Regions from separate parts of the Homo sapiens genome. Here all the other regions are linked to region 3. The links come from fine-mapping of genetic effects on gene expression. A gene starts in region 3. Each other region holds a variant in brackets. All regions are shown on one strand. Distances are between the middles of the regions. Region 1 overlaps LOC105378850 (a long non-coding RNA gene). Region 2 has its middle 27 kb from the start of BARHL2. Region 3 holds the start of LRRC8D (leucine rich repeat containing 8 VRAC subunit D).

Region 1 (8,341 bases), 570 kb before region 3:
ATAGTGCTACTAATGATGATAGTCTCTGAGTGGTGGGACTTAAGTAATTTTTTTTAACTTTCTTCCTTATAATTACATGAATTTGCTCAACTTTCTAATAATAAGAATGTATTATTTATATATTCAGAAAAAGCAATAAGGCTTATATTTTAATTTAGTGGGGGAAAACCAACACATATTTTTATACTTATTTTAGTGTCATTGAGGAGAATTTGCCTAGGAGATGCAAAGAGAGAGAAGCCTATACTTTGAGGGTGGAAGCCCCTCCAACAGGTAAGCTGGAGTTTCCAGGATGGAGAGAATAAGGGCTTTACCTCCAGGGAGCTTGACTGGTATAATATCCAAACAGCAATATTGAGTAGACACTGAAATATTTGAAACCAGAATTCAGAGGAGAGGGCTAACCAAAGTTTTAAACCTGTTCAACTGGTCATTTGCTGGTACCTTTTTGTTGAATCTGGAATATAGGGAAGGAGAATCGATTTTGAACAGAACCTATAGAGTTACATTAGTAGCCTAGAAGGGAATGAATTTTAGAAGGCTAAAAAATTCAGCAGTGGATAAAAGAGATAGTAGATGTCAATACATTTTAAAGATGTTTTGTATTAAATAAGACTTCTTTTAAAAGAAGTTGCAACAATTCAACAAATACTTATTGACTATTTCCACATGCCAGGTGCTGGGCTCAGCATTGGGTCTAGCAGGAAACCAACCCCTTTAACTAACCTAGGGTAAAGGTAGGTGGAACAATCATGGTCATATGTGTAGTTCATCTACTGTATGAGGCCGACCCAGAATGAATCGAAGACAGACACCAGAACAGGCTGTAAATGATCAACACTCTTCCACTTGACACTTCTTGTTCAAGTTCCTTCTTTCCAGGATCTCAGAAAAATATCAAAAAAGATTTATATCAATTCCTCATCTCCAATGTACACTTGGAGCTCTCTTTAATGACCTTGTTTCCCTCCCTATTAACATTGTGCCAACATTCACTATTACTACCTTCTTCTGTTGAGTTTTGTGTAAGTTTTGATTAGTTAGAATGGTTTTGCAATAAAGCTGAGAAATTGTCTTTTTTTCCTAACTTTAATAGATGCTGATTGCAAAGTAGATATGATTATTTTCCATTTTACAGATGAGGAAACTTGGAGATGTTAAGTAATTTGTCCAGAGTATCGGAGGTTTTTGCTGGCAGACTTAGGACTTCTGAGTTCAAAGTGCACACTCTTCCTTCTGCAACAAGTGGCACAGTGTCTTACGCAACAGTCCTTGAGGGCCTCCCTTCCTGAGGATGCAGTAGCAGTGGAACAGCAAGGCCTAAGTGCTCTGCAAACATTTGCTGCCCAGTGAGGAGGAGCTAAATCTGTCCCAAGTAGGGGTATTGTGTCTTTTTTTAGCTTTATACCTATTTTTAAGTTGCCAGCTTTTTGCTAGGCACAGTTTGAGGTCCCAATTAATAATAGGTCCAGTTTAATAATAATAATAGTAATAATGACCTCTATTTACTTATGTTATTTTGTGGCAGGAAGAGAATCAAGCACATTTCATGAAGTAACTCACTTTATTTTCACAGCAGTCCTATGAAGTAGGTATTTCTATTACCCTTGTAGGTAAGAAAATGGAAGCACAGAGAGTTTAGGTAACTTACCTAAAACCACACAGCTAGGAAGTGATAGAGCTGGAATTGAAATCTGGCAGAATGACTCCAGAGTTTTTCATCTTAACCATACCGTTCAGATCCATCATCAAGAAAATCAAAGGAAAGAGGAGATAGCCAAGTGAACAGACAAATGCCATGCAGAGTAGTAAGGACCATGATTGAGGCATACACAAGGCACTGTGGAGTTTGGAGAAAAGCAAGACCTAGGGAGAAAGTGAGGAGAATTGTCCCACGAAGAATGCAGAGAAAAGAAGATAGACCTAGGCAGTATTAGTATTCATATTTTATAGGTGAAGAAAGAGAGGCCCAGAGAGATTAAGTCATTTTCCCATTTGTAGCTGGTAAGGTGGTAGAACAAGGATTTGAACTCAGGCAGTCTGGCACCAGATTCTGTGCTCTTAGTCCCTGTATTGTGATGAGAGTAAGATAGTGAGCTAAATTTCGAGCATCTCAAATTTTAGACGACCATGGAGACATCAAATGGCAATTTTCTGTAGGCAGTTGGGCACATAATCCTGGAGCTCAGGATGGAGATCCAAATTCCTCTGCCAGCTCAAACTGGCACAACGATCTTCTGCAACAAGACAGCCACAAGCAGGCACTTCCTGTATGGTCATTTTAGGGTTCATGTCCTTAATATCCCAAGCATATTAGAAGCATGAACTTTAACAACTGATTTTTAACTAGATGCTTAATGAAATTTTAATAAGCACTGGCTGAAACCATTGGGCATCAATGGAGGGGAGAGACTGTGCTTATAAAAAATGACTCATTACCTTAGATTCTTTCTGGAATAAGGCAGTGGGATGATTAGGTAGATAAAATATTCTAGGACTCTTGCTTGTCATATGATTCTGGATACAACAAGGAGATAAGCCCTGATATGGAAAAAGGTTGGCAGAATTAGTGAGAAAAAGCTAGCCTCAAGGTGTAGGAAATAACCAAATTAAATGGGCTGCTTGCAGGCACAAGTCTACTGTGGGCTAATTTGTTTCCTGCAAAAATAAAAAAAAAACCCCTCAACTCATTTTTGTCCTCTTAAATTTTAAACAGATACTGTGTAATTGCACTTCCCTTCTCTTAAGATTGTTTTGCTTGGGCAAGAGGAGAGTGGAGGGTAAGAGGGAGGGAGAGAGAGAGAGAGAGAGAGAGGGAGGGAGGGAGGGGGGGAGGGAGGGAGAGAGAGAGAGAGAGAGAGAGAGAGAGAGAGAGAGAGAGAGAGAGAGAGAGAGAGAGAGAGAGAGAGAGAGAGAGAGAGACACATACATAAGCCCTGGGCTCCATCTTGTTGCTTATCAGGGATGCTAATAACATCCCACCTGCCAGTACAACCGGGAGATGGGTATGTTTCATCTAAGAATCTTCTCTTTGAAATATCAGTGCTTACTCTTTTTCTGAGGAAAATTCCAACTTCAATTTTCTTTCATCTCTGACTCTGTATGAGAAGCTATAGTTTAACTGCACTTAGTTGATCAATTGATTAAATATTGACCTCATTTGCTGGCTCAACCCAGACAGGATATAGAGAAAGCATGAAGCCTCTTTTTCCAGGCCACATGCTCATGTTTTCTCCATCCCTGCAGGACATTTATTCATTCACCAGATCTTTGCAGGCAGCATATTATAGGCCAGTTACTGTTTTAGTGCTGGGGAAATGACAAAGAAGAAAAGCTCACTATCTATCGAGGAAGACAGGTCCACAGGCTGTTGCAGTGCCATGTGGAAAGTACTGCAATGAGAGTAACCATAGGGTTCCATGAAGAGACATATAGGGGCATAAAACTAAGATTTGGAGTATCAGGGAAAGCTTCCTGCAGACAGGTGTGATAACGAGGCAGAGACCTGAAGGCTAAGCAGAAGTTAGTCAGGCTGAGGGGGATAAGAGGAAAGGTACAGGGCTCCAATCTATGAAAACAGCATGTACTAAAGTCTTGAGGCTAGAAGAGGGAAGGCCCAGCGGTCATACATGGCTTAATGTGCCTAGAAAGTGTGAGTAGGGAAGAAGGAAAAAGGAGTCTAGGTGGTAAGATAGATGGGCAGGAGAGGTAAACAGAAGGGTTTTGGATGACAGGCCCTATCATAAGCCTAAGGAGTTTGCTTTTTACTCTGATTGAGATAGGAACCATTAAAATGTTTTGAGCAAGGGAATGACAAGATCAGATGTGCATTGTAGAAATACTGTATTGGTATGGATAATGACTTAGAGCAAGTTTGTCCAACCTGGGGCCTCTGGGCTGCCTGTGGCCTGGGACAGCTTTGAATGTGGCCCAACACAAATTTGTAAACTTTCTTAAAACATTACAAGATTTTTTTTGCAACTTTTAAAGCTCATCAGCTACTATTAGTGTTAGTGTAGTTTATGTTTGGCCCAAGACAATTCTTCTTCTTCCAGTGTGGCCCAGGGAAGCCAAAAGATTGGATACCCCTGACTTAGAGGATGTAAGACTAGAGAAGCGTCATTGGTATGTTG[C/T]AGTGGTAATATAGATATGAGAAGATATTAGCCTGAAATAACAAAATAGCTTGGTAATGAATTGCTTTGGGGGATTAGAAACAGGGAGAAACCAAGGGTCAAGGATGGAACTATGGTATAGTGAGGCTGTGAAGAGGGCTCACTGTTCCCTACCCTGAAGATGTCTGCAGGCCACACTTCTTTTGTTTGCTGCTTGCAGAGTTTTAAGCAACTCTTGGAAAAACAGACTGTGTAATCTATTTGTTTCCCATTCCCTCACTCCATGCTACCGTGACTCATTCAGCCAATTCATTGTCTGTAGTCTATGCCTTTGAGAAGCTTGCAGACAATTAAACAAGTGATTAGAAAACCATACCAGATTACATCAACATTTTAGGGCAGAAGCATGGAGAATCTAAAGGGTTTGCATGCTCTGAAACTTACTTTGGCTTCCATGTTCAGAAGAAAGGTAGGAAAAAATACCTTAATGCAAAATGAAACATTCCTGATGGTTGAATTCACATTTGTATGACAGTATCACAAAACATCTTGCTAGCAAATTTTCCTAGGAGTTCTAGATACACATTCCCAATTTCTTTCTAAAAATCTTGATATTATGTTCTTTAGATACATCAAACTTAGCATTTCCAAAAACATCTTATGAACTTTTCTTCTGTATTCCCATTCTTGGTGAATAGTGTTACCATCTATTGTCACTCAAGTTAAAAGCTTCAAAGACAACCATAATTTCTGCTCCCTCACTGTACACACCCCTTCTCAATTTCAACTTGGGCAGGAAGACTTGCCAAGTCAATATACAAAATATATATTAATATCCCCACTGCCCTAGTTCAAAATGGCACAAATTTTTCCCTGAACATGCCACAGTTGTAGAATGGTCTCTCAGAGCCTACTTCGTTTCCTACACTCTCATCACAGTACTTCTTCAGTAAGCAGCTTACATTATGTCATAACTGAAAACCACACCCAAAGCATAAAGTCTCCACACCCAAAATATAAAGTCAAAACTTTTTAACAAGGTTCTTCACAGTCAGACCCCAAATTATGTTTATAGTCTCTCTCCCCCGGACTGTGAGCTCCCCTAGGGCAGAGGCTATGCTTTATTCATCTTTGTAGACTGTCTAGCACAGTGCATAACACATAATACTTGCTCAATAAATGTTTGCTGAAAGAATAGGGCTAGAAATGTGGCACCTTCCCATATATGTATTTACTTCCTTTCAAGTTAAAATAGTCCATGGTGTGTTTTGTTGCAGGCAACATGACTGCAGCACAATCAACTATGGCTTTGCTGATCTCGTGTATCATCATCCTCATCATCCTCATCCCCGCAATTGCAGCAAACGTCCAGTTGTGCACTTACTGCTGATGATGAATAAATGTATAGAACAGGAAAAAATGTATCTCACCTTCAGACAGAAGGTTGCACTCACATCCTTAGCAGTTATAAACAAGGCTTAAAAACAAGACTGAGTTTACATGAATGATTTGTTTTTAGACTGAGGGCTATATGATTGCTTTGGTAGTAGTGGTCCCTAATGGAGCTATGTTAATTGGCATCTGGGTTAGAAAAGAAAAATTAATATGGCCCTCAGAGGCAAGAACTGGGGCTCGTCTACATTTAGTGGAATCTTTCAGAGCCTCTTTAGAGGGGCACACACCCTAGAGAGGATGATGAAGACAAAAATTTTGAATGTTGGAAAAAAATTGTGTTTGAAGAATAAATTACATAGAACATATATGTGTGTGTGTGTGTGTGTGTGTGTGAGGGAAAGAGACAGAATGGGAAATGGTCAGTGAGGGATGTACCAAGTTACAGTATCTTTTTTCACCCATTATAAAAGAAATACATGTTCATGTTAGAGATCTTGAAATAAATAAAAGAAATTTATGTTTATTTTAGATATCTTAAAATAAATTTAAAGAAAAAAATCAAATAGTAATCCCAACATTCAGAATAACAAATGTTAATGTTTTGGATTATTAACTTCCAGTCTTTTTGTATGGTTGTGTAACTAGTATAACATACTGTTAAAGACTACAAGCCTCTGTCATTTAATAGACATAGTGTCAAGTTCCAGTATAGCCACTTCCTATTGAAAGGTTATTTAAAATATTAAAGCCTCAATTTTTCCCAGTAAAATGAAGATGAAGATGATGGTAATAATAATAAAAAGTAATCCATAGGTTTGTTTTTAAGATTAAATAAGATAACATGCATAGAGTGCTAAGCTTGGTGCCTAGAGCATAGACTAAGTACATAATAAAAGTTAGGTAGTTTTTTTTTATTTTAACAAAACGAATTTTATGCTCTCTCTGTGTGTGTGTGTGTGTGTGTGTGTGTGTGTGTGTGTGTGTGTGTGTGTTTCTGTAGTTTAATCTCTCCCATATCCTTGATTATTTTCTTAGGATGAATTGCTGGAAGTGGAGTTACTAGGTCAAAGGGCATGTATATTTGACGATTCTTGATACCTAGTACTGAATTGTCCTCCAAATAGGCTGTACCAATTCATCCACCCTCTGGCTTCATATGAGAAGTCTCACTTCTCACCCATACCAACAATGGGCATATATAGATATAGATATATAGATATCTTGCCAATTTAGTCGGCAAAATACCCTTATTTTAATTTATTTAATAATTTATAAATATTATAGTGTCATTTGAAGCCACAACCCTCTGGGACTGATTAAATAGATGAGAAGTGCCCATTATATAATATGCTAAAGAAGCTGGTTTTATCCTACAGAAGATAAGATCAGAGGCGAAACTTCATGACTATCTTCAAGGATATAAGGAGGTTTATGTGAAAGCATTGTTTTCCATGTTATAAGTAGTTAACTAAACAAGAGAAGCTGGGCTATGATTAAAATAGTTTAAACTTCTCTTGAATGCAAGGGCAGAACTGCCACTTTCAACATGACAGAGTACTAGGAAGGTTCTGAGAAAGATCTTGGGGTCCCTGAAGCTGTAATGACCAGCACGGTCACTTTTTTGCCTTTGGTGGGACATCCAGCTCCCTGAAGGGAATGGGCACACCACCTGATTTATTTGGTCTCTTCCAGTTCTGTGATTCTATAGTTAATTTAGTGAAGTGTTGATTTTGTGATATTTTTGAAACTAGAAAAGATGGATTTATTCCAATGCATCCATCAGGTGACATTTTCGAACAGATAAATTAAGCTCTGTCTAGAAACCATCTCTCCTGTTACAAGTACAGACAAATGCAATGCAGTTCCTGCCATCAACCATCTTATTAGAAGCAGATTAATAACTAGCGATGATGACTACAGCCTTTTTTAAAAAACAGAACTTTCTGTATTTTTTCGTGCTCGGGCAGTGTTTTACGGAAAGGTGTATTTACTGTGAAGAATGTTTAATGGCAAAGCACATAATGAAGAAATAAATGAGTACAAAAAATGATTTTTTTGTTGTTGTTGCTGGCCAGTCTACTCCAGCTCTTCCCCCTGGATTCTTTCACACAAAGAACACGTTGTTATTGGAGCCATTACAGAGCTCCTCGGCTTTGCTAGGCTCTGCGGGGCTCGAGGGAAATGGCTACAGATTGCAGCAGAAAAGTCCATCAGACAGATCACATGTGACCCCACTGTTTCCAGGAAAGAATGCACTGGAACACTTCAGCTGAATAGACAGATTTTCCAAATGTTTTAAATCAGTTTTGAGACAAAAAGAGGAAGATGCTAAGAAATGGGTTTGGCCTATACACATTCGACCACGCAGTGTCCATTTCTCTGGAATGCAGACATTAGGGGCTTTCATGTGGATGGGAGGACCTTAAGGGGAAAAAACCCCAGCCCACCACAACAATTAAGCAACAATTGAAGAAAAGCAGGGAAGAAAAGATGGCCCTGTGTTAGTACAATAGCTCAGGGGCTTTTCATTTTGGGGCATAAAGACAGAACAGAGAATGTTGTTTTCTTTTTAAAGCCCTTTTAAAAATGGTAACTGCATCCTGCTCTTGTAGATGTATTACTTATGACATCCCAGTTTTCATCCGTTCATGATTTTACATTAGAGTTAAATCTCTGCAGCTTGAATCTCACGGCTGAGTTAGCCAGAGCCCATAAAATATTGAAACCTTTAGAGCAGCAGCCAGCCAGGTTGAGAGAAGTTCATGTCCAAAGCTGAGCTTTAGATTCTGAGACATCCCAATTGGAGTGTAGTACAGAAAAAAGCACTGATAAAA
Region 2 (8,341 bases), 920 kb before region 3:
TTTTAGTTGTCAGTACATTAGCAAAGTGTTAGAAGGGCAGAGATTGTGCTTTAAAAATCATAAAATAAAATAAAACAAATCAACACCAAAAAATGAAATATCAAATCAACCTCGAACTCATCTCTCCTAGGTTTGAGCCTGGTTTCTCCTTCAGGCCCATTTTGTCTCATTGAAACACAGATACACGTGTCCCTTTCCACACATATTCAGATTATTCTTGGGGTCAGTCTATTTTGTCTAGATTCAGCACCGTAAGAGTTATTGGAAAATGCTATACATGTGAAGAACTGGTATGGAGATAGGGAAATAGGAAGAGAAACCTTTATCTCAACTTTACAGGTGAGGAAAGAGGCTAATGTCACATATCAACTTTTATTTTTTACTGCTTAGAGAATCTCTTTCAAGAAATTAAAATGTATTACAATCTGAAATTATTTTCATTAAGCATTTATTCTTTTGTTTTTTTAAAAATACATGATCTCTATTAGAGTTTTATAGGTCAGGGCTTCTCTTTATATACCCACATAGCACTCTATATTTCCTTCTTGTCATTTACCATAATTGCAATTAATTAATTGCATGTGTAATTGCTTATTTAGCTTTGTTTTCCCTAAAGAGAAAGTTCCATGAAAATAAAGAATGTGAGCATGGTGTTTACCACTATGTCCCCGGTGTATTTGGCACATAGTAGTAGGTGCTTATATACTTATTGAATGATGTCAATGAATGAATCAATAAAATATTTACTATTTGCTAAGTAAAAAACAGTGTTTTGTTTTGTTTCAAATTAAACATTATTTTTTAGAGCTGTTTTAGGTTCACAGCGAATTTGAAAATGCTATTTTCAAATAGCATTCCCACACACCCCCATCCTCTTACACACACACATAACCTCCCCCACTATCAACTAAAGCAGTACTTTAAATGAGAGTAAAACAGTTCTGTCTTTGGGTTCCTTGTCTAGTTTATGTCAAGTATAACAGCCGGAGAAAAAGCTGAACTGCTAATAACAAACAGGGCCTCCAGATAGTGACTTAGATAAGATAGAGATTTGTTTTTCTCTCATGGAACAATCTGACTGATTCAGATTAAACGGGTAGCTCTGTCCCATGAAGCCAGGGTGGATCTGCCATCCCCAACATATGGCTTCCAAGGCTGCTCAAGTTGTCACCATTTCCAGCTGGTAGAGAGGGTGATGAGCCAAAATCCAGCACATGGGCCCCTTCTTAAGTTGGAGAGAACACAGAAGTTGCACACATCTCTTTCTCTCATGTCCCATTGGCCCAAACTTTAGGCCCATGGTCATTTCTAGCTGTCAAAGGGCTGGGAGACCTAATTGCTAGCTAGATGGCCATGTGCCCAGAAATATGGAAAAGGTGGGTTTTGAAGGACAACTGGTGGCCTGACATGACCATGGACGAGAAATATTTATTAAGATAGCAATCCAACAAATTTCAAATGAGATGAACCAAAGCCATAAAGTTCTAATCTTAAAATATCTTAGGTTCTTCTCACCAACATGAAGCCACTTAATTGGTAACAGCAGTATTACAAGGAAGAAAAGAATGGTATGATGACAAGAGGAAGCTAGGCAGAAAAAGAACAGAATAATGCAAGGAACTGGTCTGTGGCTTATCAATCATTTGCTGAATCATGCCTTTCTTTTTGCAAGAAAAAAATGCTATAGTAGGCAGCCTCTAAGGCGCAACTCAATGATCTTAGCCTTTGATATTTGTACCCTTGGTAGCCCCCCTTGAGCACTGGGTTGGACTTATTGACTTGCTTCCAACAAATAGAATACAGCAAAGGAGATGGATATCACTTACCAAATTAGGTTACAAAAAGATTGTGGCTTCCATCTTGGGACTCCTTTCTTACACTCTCACTCATTTGCTCTGAGGGAAGCCGGTTGCCACATTGTAAGCTGCTTTATGGAGAGGTCTGTGTGGTGGGGACCTCCAGCCAACAGCCAGTGAGAAACTGAGGCCTCAGTCCAATAGTACGTCAATAACCATATAAGCAAGCTTGGAAGCTGATTCTTTGTAAGTTGGGACTATGCAGTTCTGGTCCGAAGCTTAATGCCACCTCATGAGACATCTTGACCAGCACAGACAGCTAAGTGACACCCGGATTCCTGACCCACAGAAACTGTGAGATAATAAATGTTTATGGCTTTAAGGAATGAACTTTAGGGGTAATTAGATGACTAATGCAGTGAGAGAACGAATACAGCAATTAGATAACTAACACGAATGCCAGTCACAAGAAAATGAATTCCAATTGTCCTATAATTTCCTGCTAGTAATTTTATGTAACAAGCATCTTTAAGTTGTCTTATTAACCAAGACTATAATTTACTTGTTTCCAAAGTCTGGTCTGGAAATCTCTGGGGGTCCCCAAGAGTCTTTCAGGAAATCCATGAGATCAAACTATTTTTTTTTTTATTGAGATGTTACTTACCGATTTCATTCTCATTCTTTCATGAGTATGTGGCGTAGTGTTCCAGAGGCTGCATCTATGGGATGATGTCATTGCCCTGACAGTTTATGAAATGGATGCTTGTATGACCTTGTGTTTTCTACAATTTTCTAAGGTAGATTTAGCATACAAAAATGTGCATTTTCTGAGATTAACTCAGTTATTCTCACTACTTCCTAGGCTGTAAGTAGTTATTGTCAATTATATTTGGTAAAATCTCTGTAACCTCAATGTTGTCCAGTAAATTGTTTTAAAATCCCAATGTTTTCCTTGCAACTATGCAGAGACACGACAAGAAGTACACTTCTGTTGCCTTGTTTTGCAATGATATTTTAGGATTTTCTCAGTTTTTGTTTCTAATGTAGTAAATATTGATAGATATAAACCCTCACAAACAAAATCTCTTTGAAGTTTTAATAATTTTTAAGAGTATAAAGGGAATAACACCAAAAAGTTTAAGAATTATTTGTTTAGGCTGGTGCGGTAGCTCATGCCTATACTTCCAGCACTTTGGGAAGCTGAGGCGGGAGGATTGCTTGAGCACAAGAGTTTGAGACCAGCCTGGGCAACATGGCGAGACCCTGTTTCTACAAAATTAAAAAAGTAGCCGGGCATGGTGGCACACACCTGTGGTCCCAGCTACTCGGGAGGCTGAGGTGGAAGGATCACTTGAGCCTCGGCGGTCCAGGCTGCAGTGAGCTATGATTACACCTCTGCACTCCAGCCTGGGTGACAGAGGGAGAACCTGTCTCAAAAAAAAAAAAAAATTTACTTGTTTAATCCATCAATTGACAAATGTGATTGAGCCCATATATGTGTTCAGCACTGTACTATGTGTGACATAAAAGTGTGAACGAAACCTTTGATCTTAAAATGCTTAAAATCTAATTGTAGAGATGAGACTAATTTAGGGGGTATGAGGGAGTGTTGTCTGAGGTATATACTGCAAAGCTAAATGCTGCAGTAGAGACCTTATGCAATAGAAGGGACATAAATGTACACAAAAGGGAGAGGTTGGAGGTTGGTGGTGGAGGGTAGCGGGAGGAGGTGAGAAGAGTCATTGGGAAGTGAGTAGTGCTAGAAGAAAGGCCTTTCTGCTCTCCTAATGAGAACCTCCGTGAATTTGAGAGAGAAAATATGCAGAGAAGGCATTGGGGAGATGTATCATTGAAGGGCCAGGAAAGGAAAGCACAGTCTTTGGCAACTCTGAGCCACATGTTGCTTGGATTTGGGGGACCTGCATGGGAGCTCTGTCTGTCAAGTGTATCCTGCTTGGATGGCTGACCTGATTGCCATCACCTTCACACAGCAGGCACAATTCTGATCCACATTTCTTATCACTATGAAACCTGGAATTGTGTGAACTGTAAAACTCAACTTCATCATATTAAAATCCACACCTAGACTTTTGAAGATGTTGCCAATGCTATGTGTGTGTTAGGCTCACATAGATGTTTTTCTATTTAGGGGATATGGCAGCATTTGTTTGGGGGAAAAATAAAAGGTTATTTTACTGCTTTGGGCAAAAGATGTCACTGCTTCCACTTGACCAGTAAGAATGAGAAAACTTGGGCTCTAGTCTGCCCTGTACAAATGAGGAACTTCTAGTAGCTTTAGCTATCTGACTCTCAATTTTAGCATCTGTAAAAGAGGGATATTTGCCCAATACAGCTTCAAAGACCCTCCAAATAAAAGACTTGGAGCATACGGAAAGGAAATGAAGAGACCAAACTTGGCCCCTTCAGGCAAGGAAGGTCTAGGGGCACGTGATCTGGTATAAGATACAGATAGTTCCTATGAGCTAGACTTGGTCAGATCTCCACAGAGAAAAGGGAGCTTGCTGGTAGTATTGCCCTTTGGGACTGCACAGATGACAAACACACACGCAAAATATGTACTAAAGACAATTGGCATGGGAGGTCAGTATTGACACAGGGTGACCC[A/C]CTCTTGTGAGGAACACAGTTCAAGACCCAGAAAAAGGCACATCTCTTCCCCGTTGTCCTCTAAACAGCATCTGAAACCGCAAGGGTTTTTGGCTTGTGCCACCATCTGTGTAAAAGACAGACAGTGTCGTGGGGTGCAGGGAGGATTTGAGTGGTAGAAACACTCAGGTAAGGGAAAAGACAAACTAACTTGTCAAATCCTTCCTCTCAGATAGTGTGAATGCTACAGGTCTTTTCATAATAAAGTATCATTTCCCAATAGCACCAAGTACCCATTTTCTTGCTTCTCTTTGTATTCTAGTTTGGTTCCAAAGGTACTCAGGAGATAGCACAGTATTTGCTGCAGTTGCATGGGGTAGAAAAAGAATATTTTGCAATAATTTATATCTCTCTTAAAATTGTATATGTAAGTCTGGATGTAACCTTCAGGAAGCATGATATTTATTCTTTGCATTAATGACTAGATTCTGAACCTTAGAATTGCAAGTAATTTTAGTTTTATCAAATGTTTAATAAGATGTAATTAAATTTTTTAAAAATTAAATTAAAACCTACCTTTATTTAAACTGTTTAAAAATTCTCTGAGGGCAGCATCTAAGACAATGGTTGCAACGTGATAAATAAACAGAAAGATTTATCATCTAGGATACTGGCCAATTTTTTAAAAAAATTGCATTTGTCATGTATAGCACACATTTGAATTTGTTATTAGGAGATGTGGTGTCAACCTTTTGTTTCAATAGCAATTCAAAGATGAAATACAATATTTTCCGAATCGTCCCGAAGATGAATTACTTCATTGAAACAAAGTGATGACTTTAAAATCACTCTTGGACATATGATAGAAATGCTGCTTAAATGCTGTTTAAGCAACTAAGTTTAATTTAGATAAGACACAAGACGTGCCACAAAAGTTAATTAAGCAACAGAAGAATTTCAAATAAAACGTAAGTCAGATCTTTGGAGAAAAATTAAATTTTTTTTTTTAGAGACAGAGTCTCACTCTGTCACCCAGGCTGGAGTGCAGTGGCACTATCTTGGCTCACTGCAACCTCTGCCTCCAGGGTTCAAGTGATTCTTCTGTCTCAGCCTCCCAAGTAGCTGGGTCTACAGGCACATGTCACCACGCCTGGCTAATTTTTGTAATTTTAGTAGAGACGGGGTTTCACCATATTGGTCAGGCTGGTCTCAAACTTCTGACCTCAGGTTATCCACCCACCTCGGCCTCCCAAAGTGCTGGGATTATAGGCGTGAGCCACCACACCCTGCCTGAAAAATTAATTTTTAATTGATGCTATCCACAGTTATTTGAAGTGAACTGTTTCGTGTTACTAATAATATTACCAAAAAATTAACAAAAAATTTCAAATAGATCTAAGTTTGGCTATTTCATTTTTAAAAGGGCTAAAAAGTATTTTAAAAAATTTTAGCAAAGTGTTTTTTTCTAAGTCAAAATTTATTGCAAAATATGCAACAAAAGTATTGTTCCAATAAAATGTAAGGACATTTGAGCAAGAAAATGAAAATGTTTACCTATTAAGGAGATTATTCATGTATAAATAATTACCAATAATTTATAATTTCAATAGGAACCATGTTTCTGGCCATTGTAGATCAGAGTACACAAGGTACAATCTTCGGCTTTTTTTTTTTTTTTGAGACATGGCCTTGCTCTGACACTCAGGCTAGAGGCAATGGTGCCACCATAGTGCACTGTAACATCAAACTCCCAGGCTCAAGTGATCCTCTCATCTCAGTCTCCTGAGTAGCTGGGACAATAGGTAGTGAGTCACCATGCCCAACTAATGGCTTATTTTTATTTTTATTTTTTTTAAGAGACAGGGTCTCACTATGTTGCCCAGGCTCAGAGTACAGTCCTAATTGAAGAGAAATTTGAACAAGTTAATCAATGCTAACTTTTTCCCTAATTTTTATTCCTTTATAATGACCCAACATTGGAAAATTTGAAATTAAAAACGTAAGAAACACTTTACGTATTAATATCTAGATATTCCTTTAACATAGTTATGTTAAAATAATAGTAATGCATTTGATATTAAAATAGTTTATATGTTCTGCAATAACCCTACTTTGTTACATGTGCCTGCATTACAGTTTTTGAATAATTATTAAATTCATATATAAAGTTCACTTCCTAACTTCAGTATTGGTTTAAGAATTTTATTGAGAATTCCAGTTGACCCTGCCTTAGCAGAGTGAAGTTTCTCCAAGTTGAAATGAACTGAGTATATGTATGAACTATAATGACTTTAAAAATATTGGCTAATTTTCATTAATGTCAATAGAACACATATGAAAATCTTGGTTATACCAATATAATTTGTTATTGTTTTTTAAATGAAGGCAAGACAAATTAATTTTATGTAATATATATAATAGCTAATGAATTATGTATGGCTTTATTATGCATCCAAGTGTCACCAGCTCATCAACAGAGCACCTAGACATGCACAATAATAATTAATTCAGTCATCTTTGATATTTTGCTGACTGCCAGTCACATAAAAAACATAGCTTTACACACATTTTCTCAATTTTGTCCTTATGAATATTTGTCAAGGTAAGAGACAACAATTTATTTAACAGTTTTTTACCTTTATTTATAACTTCTAAATATTTAGACATAAGATCTATAAGCCTCCATTTGTTCTCTTGCCTTGGTCCCCACAAATATTAGGAGCGGGTCCTCTGCCTGGAGGGGAAGTAGAATCAACCTTGGGTCCCACTCTCCCCTGGTGTGTCGACCTAGAGATGACACCAGAGAGGCCCTTGGGTGCAGCTGGGCAGCCCAAGTTAGGATTTCACATACCTTCCCCTTTCCCAGCAGGAGGCACATACACGTCCCTCCCCACATTCTCACTGATGTCCAACCATCTTTAACAAGAGCATAAACCTTCACAGTAACATTTAAAAATGCAAATGCACAATTAAGGTGACACCTTAATGTGAATGACTTTTAGCTGGTATAATTAGTCTTCCAGTTCCTCATCCTCTGGAATCATTCCTTAACGAAGAGTGTACTATTTCACCATGAGGTGTTCCTCATATCCAGCTGGTAATGTTTGGTTTGGAGATGGGAGAAAAGGGGAGTCGAGGAGTTGAGAGAAGTCTTAAATATAGGAAGGATTTTCCTGGCAGATTATATTGAAACTGCTTGCAGTGACACAGTGGATGGTTATTCTAACTGTGGTCAAAGGTGCTCACTCGAAGGGTAAGTAGGCACTGGAATCCAACTCTTGTTCTGCTCATCAAGCCGTATACATCGAACCCAGGCAGAGTCAGCTCAAACGGTGCACCTTTCTCTTGTTCTTGCAAAGGTGCTCTGTGGGCCAGTTGCAGCCCTATCTTCATGCTTCAGAGGACAGAATTAGGCCCAAATGTTGAAAGTTACATGGATGCTGATTTGTAGTTAGTATAAGGAAAAGATGGCTTATGAACCTCATCTCATTTAATCCTTGTAACAACCCTGAAAGGTAGGTACAATTACTGCCCTCACTTTACAGAATGAAAACTGAAGCTGATAAGCAACTTTCCCCACATTCATAAGAGGCAAACATGATATAAACCAGGCTTTTCTAAGTAAAAAACACCCATGGTCATTCTACTCTACGTTATGATACCGCTTACTAAAAATCTGTGCAGTTCTATGTTGTAATGGACTGTTTTGGAAATTGGCAGTTTCTCCATTTCTTTAAGTGTTTAAGAACAGGTTGAATGCACACTCAACAGATGTGTCACAAAGTGGACCCACATACCCTGTGTAGTTGAATCAGGTGATGACTACACAGTGTGGGATCAATCAGGAAAATAGAAGCCACTCTACATATTTCAAGTATGAAGGATTTTAATGCAGAGAATTAGAGGCATATCAACTATTGGAAAAGTTGGGGGAACCAAAA
Region 3 (8,341 bases):
ACTTTTCCCCTCAAGAAATTTCAAATATTCAAAAGGCATCCCTTCTTTTCATTGGAATATCCTTCATCTCCAGAGGATATAAAGAGGTTGCCCACGTGGACTGGTAAAGAAGGGAAACCAAGTAGACTGCACCATCTGGACAGCCAACACACTAACAAAGGATTGGGGCACAATGGACACTCATCACAAAGAGGTGACACACATTTGGCCATGAGATTTGAAATTTTCCTCTAGCTCTCCTTCAACACTGTGAGACAGCTACCACCCAAATCAAGTAATTTATTAAATCTAGTTCACTGGATAGATCTAGAGTATTTGGAGAACTTGGCACTAAGGTACCTGGGATTTCTTACCTGCCAGCTTCAGAAGACATCTGGGAATGGTAATTTCCTAATGTCTTTGTAGTGAAGACTGTAAAATTCAAGTTAAGTATGAACTTACATCAACGGCAAGTTAAAGCCAAGCTCTGAGAAAAAGGTTTGCTTCTAAACCTCAATCCTCTCTCCTTCTCTAAATATAAGGCTGTCACTAAATATTTGAGGCATATTAGCAAAAAAGAAAACAAAGCTTAGCCTGAGTGGGAAACAAGTCCATAGTTGATTTTTGCCAGTTATCCTATCTTCTCACAAATTTCAAAAGCAACTCTAACCCTGCAAGCTTCAGATTTGCACAAAACATTAGAAACTCTCTTCCAGATACATAAACAGAACTACAAAGACCCAGAGGAAGGAATTCAGATTTCAGAAGCTTGCAACAGACTTGAACAATTTCAAAATGGTACCCCAGGTGCAAACATTTCAAGAGCTAAATGCCATGTGGCCTGGCATTTAAATTTCTCAGAAGCCCCCAAAATAAGGGCTAATTAGCCCTAGAACTCACCTCCATCACTCAGTGATCTCAGCTCTCATATAGGACCAATAGAGCCCCCAAACTACTGAGTTTTACATAGTACTGACTACAGTTTTCAACAAAGTCATCCTCCATTCCTCTCTGATATAATTAGAAGACATAAATTCAAAAATGTCAAAGGCTAGAAGACTGGATCAAAATAAATAGGATAACATTGAGAAGGAACAACAACAACAAAAAAAACTTCTCCAAAAAAATCTGCCCAAGAAATACAGGATGCAGCAGCTCACAGAGCAAATATCTGGGGGTTTTGACTATCCAAAACATGATTATCTAATAAAGAAGTTTGTGCTCGGCACTGCCTAAGAAAATCATAGGCAGTTGTAAGCTTAAGGTGCAGTAAGTAGACATTTATGCTTAGGTCTCAGCAAACAGCTGTCTTACTGTACTCTCTGTTGGCCAGATCACATCTCAATTACATATTCAATTCCAGATTCTCCATGTGAGATGCCGATAAACTGAGAAGACATCGAGAAACCACATCCCAATAAAAGACTGTGAAAAGAATTGGGACTAGTTTGCATTAGCAAAGTCAACTGGGGGTAAGGGGACATCATATTGTCTTGGTGCATTCAAAGAGAGTAGGCAGCTCCAAAAGAAGAAAATCATTGGAAAAAAAAATTCAAGGAGACAGTCTTCAGCTCAAGTAAAAATACAACAAACAGTCCAAAGGTGTAATAACCTGTCTTCAGGAGAAGTTCACGGTTCCTGGGGTTAAACAAAAGTTACCTAGAAAGGGTAAGAATTTACTAAAATAAATAAATTGGATAGGGCCCCTCTAAAATGCCAATTCTGATTTCAATGATTCCCAACTTACTCCACTATCATACTGTGCTCATCTGCTATGATCTCCCTCCAAACTGCCCCTTTCTTTCAATAAGGATTTGCCCAGACCCTAATCACATCAGACCTGAGCACAAGTCTCCTACATCAGCTTCCTAAGCTCAATGTTATTACTCCTCCCATGTCAAGAACCACCTCCCTTCAAGACCTATTCTGAGATCTAAGGGCAGGCACTATCGCCATTTTGGACAGGATCATTCTTTGTTTAGGAGGAAGGGGGTTGATGTCCTGTGCACAGTAGGATGCTTATGTATCATCCCTGTCCTCTAGCCACTAGATGACAGCAGCACCTGCCACCTCGCTATGATAACCATAAATGTCTCCGACATTCCTCAATGTCTGCTGAGAAGCAAAATTGCCTACTTCTGAGAGCCACTGGTCTTGAGGCAAATGATTAACACCACTGACTTGTGGTTAAGTTTTTCACGAACTAGGTTCCCTCTACCCTCCTTTATTAGTCGTATATTCTGTTCCACATCCCTGACCACTGTCAAAAGTCAATTCAGATTTCCACTCCTCCCTCAGCATACTTCATAAACTTTTATCTGGTTCCACACACCCTGGATTCTTAGACAACTGTAACTGTCTGCTTCTGCTGGCATCCTCATGTGTGCCTGTCTTATCTGCTCTCTGTGATTACTACGAGAATCCTCTCCTGCCTTGTTAAGATCCCACAGCACCCACTCCAGTTCTCTGCTTCCTGCTGGCACTCAACAAATATTAACTGGTGTTTCTTAGAATGTCAAACACCAGCTCCAATTAAAAATAACTGAAATCTCTTACAAGCTACCACTTCAACAACATAATAATCATGATTACAAAGTTTTGACAAACTTTTGACTTTAATAGCTATTTTGTCTACAGTACTGAGAACAGAATCGAGTCTAATTTCCAAACTATAGCTACCAAAACAATTTAACTATTTGGACATGACAAACACATCAGAATTTTCTAAAATTAATTTTTAAAAATGCTGCATAATATAAAAATTAAGGGAAAAGGGGCCTAGTTTTTTTCTTTTTTCTTTCCATTAAACTTTAGCGATTTTGAGAAAAAAAGGGCCAAGTTTTGACCATGTTTTTTAAATGCTGGAAAACACAGCAGGGAGAAAATGATATGAATATGGCTCAATACTTTAAGTGTTGCATCATATGCTACTCCACATGGTAATGGAAGGCTGGGTCATCTAAGGACAGTTTCCTCTCCAACCTTCTAATCTGTTAGGTTTTAATCAACACGCACACATACACTCTCAATAAAAACGAGACAAATCTAACATAGTGTTCAAATATATAAATAAACTGTGCCAATTCAAGATTTTGGAATTTTTCCCTGGCTCCATAGATTACCTAATCATTTTATGGGGGGCTCCATAAGTAACCTACAGAGACCAAACACCCCAAATCAACTTTTCGTGACCCCTGTTTTAACCACCTAATTTTCATCTCAGATTCCTCCCCATCTTGCACTTGGATTTTAACAGGGATTTAGTTAGTTGGTGTCAAGACAGATGAAGCAAGAACCCCAACTCTCGCCTAGCTGACAGTAGGTGTTTGGTCACTATTTTTGGACTGCAAAAATAAATGCTGCCTGAGGACCCCATTTACAGGATATGGTGCAGGGTTCTTCCCACAGGTCTGTAAGAAGCAGAGGTCCCAGATGCTATGGCGAGGAAGGTCTGATCACTCTCATTCTTGGCACTGGGAGGGGCCCCTTATTTGTTTATAAGGTAGACAGCCCTCATCATTACTGCAAACGGGGATTCCCTGCCTGTCCAGACTCTTCCAAAGTCCGGTACAAACCACGTAATAGGTGCTCAATAAACGCTGCCTGTACGGAATTTTACTATCAAAGCTGCCAAGGAAAGTTTCCAGAAATCAGCTCTTCCAAAATATGTCCTCAGAGTTTTCTTTGTCCAACAAAAAAATATTTTTGAAGATCCAAGAGCAGGAAATCTGCGAGGCAACGAGGAGCCAAATATAAGCCAAGCGGCTCCAGCTGGGCCCCACATTCCGCTAGGACTCCCCAGTACCTATTCCCCATCTCTCCGCCTACATCCTGAGTGCGCCCTCCCTCTCATCTCGGCTGTTTCCTTCCCACAACCCTACCTCCATACTTTCGGCCACACACACCCCAAGTGCGTGCTCCTGGAACCTCACAGCCCACCTCTCCCTCTCCAGCAAGGACCTACCTCTCTTCCCCTCGACCTGCAGCAGTTCTTCTTCACTGCAGCTGGCTTTTTAAGAAATCAAAAAATCTCATTTATCTGCAAGGGATACCCCCTAGTAAAGGGTGACGGAAAGGAGAAGGCCCCTATCAACCCTCCAGTAACTGGAGGTGCTGGTCCTCCCGGCAACCACCCCCAATTCTCCTCCTTTTCAAGCCCCTGGACAGGATTTGAGCAGAAGTCCCGCTCCCAAGAGCCCACGCCTCCAAACAAGCTAGAAGCGGATTATACCGGTACCCAACCCGGAGACGGCCCGCGGACGGCTGGGTGCACCTGCGGGCCCCCAGCTCCCTCCCACAGGCGCGGGGGGCGGGGCGCGGGCCTTCACCTCCCCGCCCCCGCCCGCCGGGCTCCCAGCGCAGCCCACCCTGCACAGGAAGGAAGCGGAGGGGAGGCGATTCTGGAGAAGTTAAAGGGCTCACCTTTGGACGCCGGGCCAGCAAGGCCAGACACCAAACACCCACCTCCGGGAGGAACCAGCAGAGCCGAAACCGGCTCTCCCCGCCTTTCCGATAGGGCGGAGGGAGGTGAGAGAAGGGAGCGCGCGCGAGGGGTTCAGGAGCCAGGAAGCCGCACTCCCCTCCCGCAGGGCCGGCCGCCCGGGGCCGAAGCGGCCGACGCTCAGACTGCAGAAAGCGGAACAATCTCCCAGGCCCTGGCGGCAGCAAACGGGAGCCCACTCCGCTCGCCGCCACCTCCTCCCGACCCCCGGACGTCCCCGAATGAGTTCCCGGCCGCAACCGCAGCTCGGGCCGCGGCGCCTGCGCCAGGGTTGCGCGCTCCGGCTCGGCGCGGCTCCACCTGCGCGTCGCCTTCCCTCGCAGCCCCCGGCCCCTGCCGGGAGAGGTGCGCACCAACCTTGGGGTGCAGCTCGGCCGCCAAGCCACGGCTTATGCTGAGGCCGGAGGTGGCGGCATCACCCGCGGCGGGCGGCGGCTGCACCGGGACGCGCCGGGGCGGCGAAGGCGCGCTGCACCCTGGACCCTGCTCCCGCGGCCCCGCCCGCGGCTGCCACCTCGAAGCGCGGCGGAGGAGCCGGGGCACCACGGGCGGCGGCAGCGGCAGCGGCAGCAGCGGCGACGGGAGCAGCAGCACATGACTCTGTAACGAGGGGAATTAGACAAAGCGTAACATGGACTCCGGGCCCGTGCAGGCGCTGCAGCTCTGGGACCAACCGCAGCCGGCGAGTGCCGCGACTGGCCCGGCCGCAGCCAATGGGGCGGGCCCGGGCCTCCATGTGATTGCGAGCGCTTTCTCCGGTGGCCCTGCAGCGCCTGACCGGACGGGGTCTGTGTGGCGAGGGAGGGGACCCGGGGTTGGAGACTGGCGGCGAGCGACTGCTAGATGCGGAGCAGGTGCTTGGGAGGGGAAGAACGGCAGCCTACATAACCATCGCCGTAATGCTCTCGCAAGCGTCCACCTGGGCAGGGCTCGGTGCCGGGCAGGCGCAGCTGCCAGTTAGCTGCGAGGCATGGTCAGGAGCCTTCACCCGTCCTGGGCGAAGGAGGCTGTCCCGTCGACTAAAACTCTGATATTAAGACTTGGCGCTGGGGGTGGGGAGTTGAATTACGTTAAAAAGTCACTTAAGTGCCTTCCAACTCTAAGGAGAAGTACTTATCTGAGCTTTGGGGCACACACAACTACTACTTGGCATGGAGAGTTTCTCAGCTTCATGTGTTCCGTCTGTTATTGAAGCTGTATTGGAAAGTCGGTTCTTGTTTTTATCTGAGCCCGCCGTTTTCATCCCATTCTTTTCGTCAAAAATATGTTACATCTGAAAGAGGCAGATGAAAAGATTATTCTATGCTAAGAGGGTTTTGCAGCCCGATAATGTCACCGTTTTTTGTTGTTGTTGTTGTAGGATCGGGGTTCATTTGCAGTCTTTTTTGTGGGTGAGCAGAGGCAGGGGCCAATAAATAAATTAAGGCGGGATATTTGGAGTTATTTGGTTGTAATAAAATATGTGGTTCAACCCAGTGCTTTCATATCTTCTTTTATCTGAATCCATGTGTTTCTGTAAACCATCGGAAGTCTAATCTGTCTTCTACCAATATCTCTCCATGTCAGCAAATGTTCAATCAACGTTTACCCAGCATCTAAATATTCTTAATAAGCATGCTGCACAAATGTTACAGGTACTCAGGAAGGTGTCGGTTCAGAGACAGTGAGACATTAAAGAGAATGATTGTCCAGGGTTTCAGAAAAGGATTCAGAGAGGAGCTGATAGAATTGACCCTTGGATGGTGAGCACTTGGCCCTCAGGCATTGGACGTGAAGAAGAGCAGCCCAAACAGGAACATGAACAGAGAGGTCCAGAATACACTCAAGGGACTGCCCGAGACCCGTTACAAGATGCCACCAGATTCTGAGCCCTCGGCCCTTTTGCTCTCACTTTCCTTCCCCGACCCTCCTTGCCAGCAGCCACTCCTGTTCCACACACTGCCAAGAAGGAGGTGTATGGGCAGGGAGTGTGTGTAAGTGATCTAATCAGTGTCAGATTTGCTGATCTAAGAGATGAGAGGTCTTTTAAAACTTAACAACTAGTGGTGTGATATTTTTATTGAAAACAGCCCACTATTATAATGAATATGGAATGTTTTGCTGTTTGTAAAAAAAAAAAAAAATTATAGGCCGGGTGCAGTGGCTCACGCCTGTAGTCCCGGTACCTTGGGAGGCCGAGGCAAGAGGATCACGAGGTCAGGAGTTAGAGACCAGCCTGACCAACATGGTGAAAACCCGTCTCTACTAAAGACACAAAAATTATCTGGGCATGTTGGCACGCACCTGTAATCCAAGCTACTCAGGAGCCTGAGGCAGGAGAATCGCTTGAACCTGGGAGGCGGAGGTTGCAGTGAGCTGAGATGGTGCCACCACACTCCAGCCTGGGCGACAGAGTGAGACTCCATCTCAAAACCAAAAAACCAAAAAAACCAATCTTCTGTACTTTGTTCTTTTGATCTTCCCTGGGTTTTAAATTGTGATTCTAGACTTGAAAAACATGATTTTAAGATTGGTATAAATCGAGAAAAGAAAAAAGTGATATTCAGAAAACAGTCAAATGTGGAGAAATAGACACTCACACACTGTAAAAGTAAGAGGAAATTGGACAAACCCCTTTGGAGGACAATTTGGAAATTTTTGATAAATAGGTGTGTTCCCTTTGAATAGGTAAGTCCATGTCTAAGAGTTTGTGCTTTAAGCATATTTGTGCAAAAATTATGTCAGAAATATTTACACATGTACAAAAATATATATATACGTGTCTTATTGCAACATTGTTTGTAATAGTGGGAACATGTAATGGTGTAAAAATCAAATAATAAAGTCCCAGTAGGAAACTGTTTAAGCAAATTTTGCTAGATCTGTAGAAGGAAACCATAAGCAGCCATTAACAAAAATAAGCTAGATCTATTTGTACCTACATGGAAGGATGTCCAAAATCTATAAGTGAAAAAAAAGGAGGCTGCAGAACAATATGAATAGTATGATTCCATTTTTTTGTACTTTTTTGCATTAAGATATACATGTTATTAAATGTATGCTTCAGAAGAAGTCTGGAAGCATATATAACAAGCTGTTAATGGTGATTATCTCTGGGTGTGGGATTACTAGGGCCTTTCATCAAGTTCTGTATGTTTGAATTGTTTTTATATTGAGCACATATTACTCTGATAATCAGAATAATAATTTTAAAAATTTAAAGGATTGTTTTAGAGTATATTCAGGCTATTATAACAAAATACCATAAGCTGGGTGGCTTATAAGCAACAGAAATTGGCTGGGCATGGTGGCTTATGCCTGTAATCCCAGCACTTTGGGAGACCTAGGCTGGAGGATCACCTGAGGTCAGGAGTTCGAGACCAGCCTGGCCAACATGGTGGAACCCTGTCTCTACTAAAAATAAAAAAATTAGCTATGAGTGGTGGCAGGCACCTGTAATCCCAGCTACTCGGGAGGCTGAGGCAGGAGAATCACTTGAACCCAGGAGGTGGAGGTTGCAATCAGCCAAGATCATGCCAGTGCACTCCAGCCTGGGTGACAGAGTGAGGCTCTGTCTCAAAAAAAAAAAAAAAAAAATTTTTATTTCCTATAGTCTGGGGGCTAGGAAGTTCAAGGCAACAGCAGATTCCACGTCTGTGTGTGTGTGTGTCTTCTTTCTAGTTCAGAGAGGGTGACTTCTTGCTGTGTCTTCATATAGTGGAAGGAGTGAGGGTCTCTCTCAGGCCTCCTTTTTAAGGCCACTAATCCCATTCATGAAGGCTCTGCCATCATGACCTAATCGCCTCCCAAAGGAATGACCTCCTAATACCATCAGTTTAGGGGTTAGGATTTCAACATATAAAATGGAGGGGCGGGGGACGC

Evidence for each region. PIP is the estimated chance that this variant, and not a neighbour inherited with it, causes the effect. A credible set is the group of variants that fine-mapping cannot tell apart.
Region 1: its variant is the best candidate, but not a certain one, in a credible set for the expression of LRRC8D in whole blood (INTERVAL, PIP 0.57).
Region 2: its variant is the best candidate, but not a certain one, in a credible set for the expression of LRRC8D in whole blood (INTERVAL, PIP 0.52).

What each region holds. Positions count from the first base shown.
Region 1 is chr1:90,387,377-90,395,717 of GRCh38, reverse strand. LOC105378850 (a long non-coding RNA gene) reads left to right here. Exons shown (of 3, transcript XR_001738147.2): 2 at 197-273. Among named protein-coding and RNA genes, the nearest start is that of LINC02787, 160 kb to the left of the region's middle. The variant C/T (reference allele first, on the strand shown) is at 4,134.
Region 2 is chr1:90,740,366-90,748,706 of GRCh38, reverse strand. No RefSeq gene overlaps it. Among named protein-coding and RNA genes, the nearest start is that of BARHL2, 27 kb to the right of the region's middle. The variant A/C (reference allele first, on the strand shown) is at 4,422.
Region 3 is chr1:89,817,788-89,826,128 of GRCh38, reverse strand. LRRC8D (leucine rich repeat containing 8 VRAC subunit D) reads right to left here and starts at 5,097. Exons shown (of 3, transcript NM_001134479.2): 1 at 4,838-5,097. LRRC8D-DT (LRRC8D divergent transcript) reads left to right here and starts at 4,335. Exons shown (of 1, transcript NR_185885.1): 1 at 4,335-5,955. RefSeq lists silencers at 4,128-4,347, 4,219-4,428, 4,519-4,618, 4,719-5,068, 5,509-5,568.